Linked DNA regions of Homo sapiens: region 1 is linked to region 2. The links come from fine-mapping of genetic effects on gene expression. A gene starts in region 2. The other region holds a variant in brackets. All regions are shown on one strand. Distances are from middle to middle.

Region 1 (2,909 bases), 87 kb before region 2:
CCAAGGCCGCCCAGCATGCAAGTGTCCGGGCCTTTTAGATGCTAACAACATGACCCCAGAATGGGCACTTGTGCATGAGTCAGTTTCTCAGTCAGCTTTTTGTCGTCAGCCCCACATCCTGCAGACCTTGGCTGAATTTGTAGCCCCTCCGGTCTCAGTTTTCCCAGCTCGGTCATCAGAGGCTGGAGTTGAATGATCTTTGTGGCTTTTTTGCGGACAATGGCGTTCTCAATTTTGTACTCTTTGGCACAGAGTGGTGTAATGTGGAGAGGGGAGCATCAGTCTCTCTCTTAATGCTTATTTAATTATATTTAATTAGGAATCTCGTTGCAATTGGTCTCCTGGGGCCATCTGCTGTGGAGATTTTTGAAGAATCCAAATTTTATTTCTTGCCATCGATCCATGTGGTTAATGGGCCTGAGGAGGAATGATGTCATCTGTCCTTCTAACTTAGCACAAGAGGCAGGAGGAGAAATTGAGCAAAATCAGGCTGAGCGCCCGAGAAGGCCACCCTTTGGAGAGCCAGGGCGGGCCTGGCTCATTCCTTCAGGTTCTCAACTGTAGTGCCCACGGTGTGCCCCAGCTTGCTCTGCCCTGTGCCAGGATTTTGGGGACAGCTGGGTTCTGGCATCATCTGTGCCCTTGTTAACATGGTACCCTAAAATTGATGCTTGCCCTGATGGTAAAATGGTGGTCTGCATGTGATCGGCACCAATCTGTGACGTCCAGGGTTCTTGAGTCAGCCACGTATTCCCTGGGTTGCCTTCAAGATGACCTGAGTGGACTCACTGCCTATTCTTTTCCCTCTAGGTGGAATAGGATTCTTACAGGAGTAGGGTGATAAGAGAAGGGGGCTCTCCTTCATTGCTGCCATCGGGCTCCTTGGTGGAAAACTGGGGCAGGATTCAAAGCAAGGCTGACATGACCTGTACTTCCCCAGAAAGGAGCCGCTGGAGGCCTGGCTAGGGCCAGCTCTCCAGCCCCGGCAGCTGCCCCCCACCCACCCCCACCGGGCATTTAATCAGTGTAACTGATTAGTTGAAACACACCACAGGCTGGGAGCCTGCGACCCTGGCTGACGTCCGGGGCTGTTGTTTATGGCTGGGTGATTTGAGGCAAGCCTCCCGACCCCGCTGAGCCTCGGATCCCTCAGTTACAAAATGAGACTTATCATATCTGCCCCCCTCCCTCCCCAAGTTGTTGAGAGGCTCCAACAATGTAGAGAGGCTGATATGAAATGTGGGTAAACAGGAGAGTGGTATTTAAATGTACGCTCTTACCATAATTGCCTTGTATTGTGTGTGTATCTTATCTCCCCAATTAGATGCGAGATCCTTGGTGACAGCCACCATGTCTCCCCCCTTTTGATATTCCCCACGCAGCCGGGATGATGCTGAACATATGGCTGCTGCTCAATAAATATGTTCTGAATTGTACTGAATTTCATTTTGGTTCCAAATCACCCTAAAAACTTGATCAGGTGCAGCCCAAAGGAGCAGGCTGGATGACGGAGGCTCCCCAGCCTGGCTCTGTGGCCGTTATGGGAAAATATCTGTGGAATGAATGAATAGATGA[A/G]TGAATGAATGAATGCCTCGTGGTGTTTGCTTTACTCTTCCTGCTCCCAGCTTTGACACTGGCTGTGAAATCTGCCTCCTGTGCTCAAAATGACTTCTCCCTCTCCTCCTTCGGGATACGCTTTCTGCATCCTGCCTCGCTGTAGCTCAGATTTCTATTAAGTAGTCAAACATAATATAAAATTGCCAACAAAAAGATCATTCCTGGATTAATCTCCCCCTTTACATAGGGAAAGACATAAAAGAGAGCATAAGATAAGAAAAGGAAATGAAATTAATCTTATACTTTCTATGGCTGCCTGTTAATTTCAAGCTTTCCTGCATCCAGGTGCCTGTGTTCCTGCTCGGTTTCTGGATTGCTTGGTACTTAAATGAAACATCTTATTAATCATTTCCCGGGAATGCTGTGCAGGCAAAAGGAAAACAAAGGCATTCAGGAGCCACAGTAAGTTTATTTTTATAGTAATGCATACCTTATCATCAAGCATGGCCAAGACATCAAAATGCTAAGCCACATTTGTATACGATCTCACACTGCTATTGATAAATCACGTTAACAGTAAGCTGCTGGATCAATTCTGCCCTGACACCAACCTCTCCACGAAATAGAGATTCGAGAATAAATGTGAAGGTAACCAGGGAATAAAACTGTTTGAGAAGTTTCACAAAAGAAGCTGAACTCTGCTAATCAGAAAGTAGATCCATCTTTAATTCCGAAATGACCGCACAGCAATTCAGCAGTCCAGAGGACAGGCAGAGTTTCTCAGCCCCGGGGTGGAATGGATGGCTTCCTATCTCTGTCCTGCCAAGGCTGCGTTCTCACATCTTCCAAAATGTCCATTAACCCCAGCTGGCCCCTCACCCCACCAAGATGATGTAAATATAATGATTAACCAATCCACACTAGCATTAAGATTTCTTGAAACTCCTCTTCACTGAAAAATGCATTAGCTCCTGGCAGTACTGTCCAGAAATTAATTCACAGACAACCGAGCATCATTACCCATGGTCTGCCCTGGCTAACTGCTCTCTCTGTTAGTGAATTTGGGAATGGAAATGAGCTATTTCCATCCACTTTATCATCCAGAGACCTTAGTACATAGTGTATCTCTGGTAAGTGCTGTTATTGTAACCTGTTTCTAGAATTGCTATTACCAGTAATTCTGCAGAAACAGGGTCCCACCCAAAGCCATCAGCACAGTGCCTTTAAATCTGAAAATCAGCCTTTAATCTCTACTTTGATGTTGTTGGCAGAGGTGAGAGTTTTATTTCAGCCCAATTGCTGTGTCTTTTAATTTTTTTAAGTAGTGAGCTATCATCCCTCCAACCCCCTCC
Region 2 (2,909 bases):
GCTCCGGTAAGGAGTAGGAATTTGGCACTGTCTCACCTAGGAGAGGGGAAACTGCTAACGCAATGGCACATCACCACCTCCAGGAAGTCTTTCAGGGTTGCCTTTGTGGAGGTGAGCCGCCATACCACAGAAAGCCTGGGCCTACTGTCATGGTCTCAACTGGCCGTCATCATCTGTGACTTTGCCTCTTAAGATTCTTTGTATTATGAGGGGTGGGTGTCTTCCCAAAGGCCTCTAATTCTCTCACCGCCACTGCTGTAATGACCTCCTAAAGGTCTCTAATACTCAGAATAGCAGAATAGGGTGACATGTGGGTGATTGCTCTGTGATGTCTTTTACACCATTGATCACCAGGATCCCTGTGGCACATCTGGCTAGTCAAGTGGGTGGCCCCTTACCTCCCAGAGCCATATCACAGAAAGCCCTTCCCAAGGAGGAGCAGCCCAGAGCTCTCTGTCAACCAGCATTCTGAAGCGCCACATGTGGTGATGGTTTAGCAGTGTCTGCTAGGAGCATGGGAGGGGAGGGTGGGGTTAGGTGTGCCATGCATTTGCCCTCCTTCCTAAAAGAACCTCCTTCCCCTCCCCAAAGCCCCATATACTTTCTAGGTCTTAACCCAGTGGCATATACATGATAGATGTTCAAAACATGTGCTGTTTGATCGATAGTGTATTCAGCAGTCATTTCGCAGCCTAGTGACTGCGAGCTCGACTCAGAGAGGGAGTGACAGTGACGGGGCAGAAGCACGTGGCTGCCAGATGGGCGATGGGAAATGTTCCGCACACAGAAGTCAACCATCCTGCCAATTTGGGAACACGAAGTCACTCGTTCGATGCCTGTCAAGTCCCTATGCTGTGCCTGCCACGGCCCTTGCTGCTACGGTACCACGAGCGTCCCCAGGAAGACACCTTGCTTGTCTCTAATTCCATGAACTTTTTGCAAGAAAATCTTGCTTGCCTTCCCCAGGGGTCAGGTCTTCAGAGGGGAGACTCCTGCCCTGGTGTGCCCGGCTCCTGCCCATCCAGCAGAGCAGGAAAAGGTGACTCGGGTTCCATTTGACAAACGTCTCTTCTGAAAGCTGCCCTTAGCAGGCAGGAGAAAAGCCCCCATTTACTGGGGCCTTGTCAGAGTTTCTAGAGCTTAAATTCTCTTCTTCAGAAAGGAAAAATATCTGCGGCCCCACATCCGCAGATGCATAAACGTGGGCGTGATTTATGAGTGCACGTGGTATCCAGCGCTTTCCCCCAGCTACTGTGAAATCGTTCCTCTTCTCTGACTGAGACGTCAACAGTATGGTCACTGTATATGTTTTCCCACTTTTTCCAGAGCCAAGAACCAGGAAAAAAAAATGAAAAATGAAAGTGTACAGGAAGTCAAGGTCAGGCCATACCCACCACAGTTCGGGCAGCCATAGAGGAGAGCTTTCTTAACGGTCCGCTGGGACCCAAGTGGGCCTCCCCTGGGACTGCGTGCTCCCCTACAGAACCTGATGGCTGGAAACACTCACACTACTGCCTGTCCCGGCATCTCTCCCTCCGCCGCAGGGGCTGATGCTGCCACAGGACACAGAGCAGCAGGCCCCAGAGGCTTCTCTGCACCTCTGCTGCCTTTCTGAGTAATCAGAGGAGGCCACACCCACTCCAGGACACCCACACGGGCCTTCTGGGCGATGACGCTCCTGGCCCAGGAGTGGGGGGCTGCCTCACACCTGCTGCTGTGGGGCAGAGTCTCTCCTGGGTCGGGGCCTCGCTGGCGGATCTGCTCCATGTCGTGTGATGTGCTGCAGCCCCGCGTCACCGAGAGCCTCTTATGGGCCACCAAGTCCACACAGCCACTGGCCATGGGGCACCCTGCAGGGCCTCTGGACACGGAGACCTGTGGTTCTCAGCCAGTGGTGATTTTGTGTCCAGGGAACACCTGGCCAAGTCTGGGTTCAATTTTGTTTGTCACAGTTTAAGGTTGGGGTGTCACTAGACATCCTACAGTGCACAGGACGGCCCCACAGCAGACCAGCCCGACTGTCAGCAGCACCGAGCCGGGAAAGCCTGGTCTGGAGCCGTTTCTCTCTAGGGTCCCTGCTAGGGAACCCCTCACTGCCATGGAGAACCCCTCTCCTCCTGTCTCTCAGGACTCTCCGAGGGTCAAGGATGGATGCCTCCCCATCGAGGGCCAAACAAACTGACAAATCGAGTGGGCAAACGGCTTACTCAAAGGCCAGGAGCAGCTACCCGATGACTGCTCCCTCGACCTCTCTCTTCTCACTTTCTTCCCTATTCCATCCTTTGATGGGTGGCCTGTTACACGTTTGGAAATAAAAACAAGTGGGAAAGAGTGCCATAAACATTCCTGGGAAAAAAGCAGGGCCGACTGGAGGTCCATTGTTGCTGAGAGACAAAAAAGATCAAAGGGGAAGAAAGAAAGGATGGAGGGAGGGGAAGAAGAGAGGGAGAAAAGGAAGGAAAGAAGGAGGAAAAGGAAGAAGTAAAGGAGGCAGGAAGGGAAAGAAGGAAGGAAGAGAGAGAGAGAGGGAGGGAGGGAGGGGGGAAGGAAGGAAGGGAAGGAAGGAAAGGAGGGAGGGAAGGAAGGGAAGCAGAGAGGGAGGGGAGGGAGGAAGGAAGGAGGGAGGGAGGGAAAAAGAAATGAAGGAAGGAAGGAGGGAGGGAGAGAGGGAGCACAGAGAGAGGGAGGGAAGAAGGAAGGAAGGAAGAAAAAGAGAGAGAGAAAGGGAGGGAGGGGGAAGGGAGGGAGGAGGAGAGGGAGGGAGGGAGGAAGGAAGGGAGGGAGGGAGGGAGCACAGAGAGAGGGAGGGAAGAAGGAAGGAAGGAAGGAAGGGGGGGAGGAAGGAAGGAAGGGAGGGAGGGAAGGAAGCAGGGTTCTCACTGGTAAATCTCCCTGGCTGCCCTCTGTGC

Alleles and levels. Positions count from the first base shown, and alleles are read on the strand shown. Sizes are in standard deviations (SD) of each study's normalised expression.
For the expression in cartilage of the gene that starts at base 1,365 in region 2, allele A in region 1 goes with a higher level than allele G (large effect, 1.2 SD a copy in Steinberg 2020).

What was found. PIP is the estimated chance that this variant, and not a neighbour inherited with it, causes the effect.
Region 1: its variant is fine-mapped to the expression of LINC01711 in cartilage (Steinberg 2020, PIP 0.95).

Annotation. Positions count from the first base shown.
Region 1 is chr20:58,545,910-58,548,818 of GRCh38, forward strand. It overlaps APCDD1L-DT (APCDD1L divergent transcript), which reads left to right. Exons shown (of 7, transcript NR_034147.1): 6 at 1,903-2,019. Among named protein-coding and RNA genes, the nearest start is that of APCDD1L, 32 kb to the left of the region's middle. RefSeq lists an enhancer at 152-653. The variant A/G (reference allele first, on the strand shown) is at 1,576.
Region 2 is chr20:58,633,408-58,636,316 of GRCh38, forward strand. It overlaps LINC01711 (long intergenic non-protein coding RNA 1711), which reads left to right and starts at 1,365. Exons shown (of 1, transcript NR_125359.1): 1 at 1,365-2,331. RefSeq lists enhancers at 1,369-1,498, 1,519-1,588.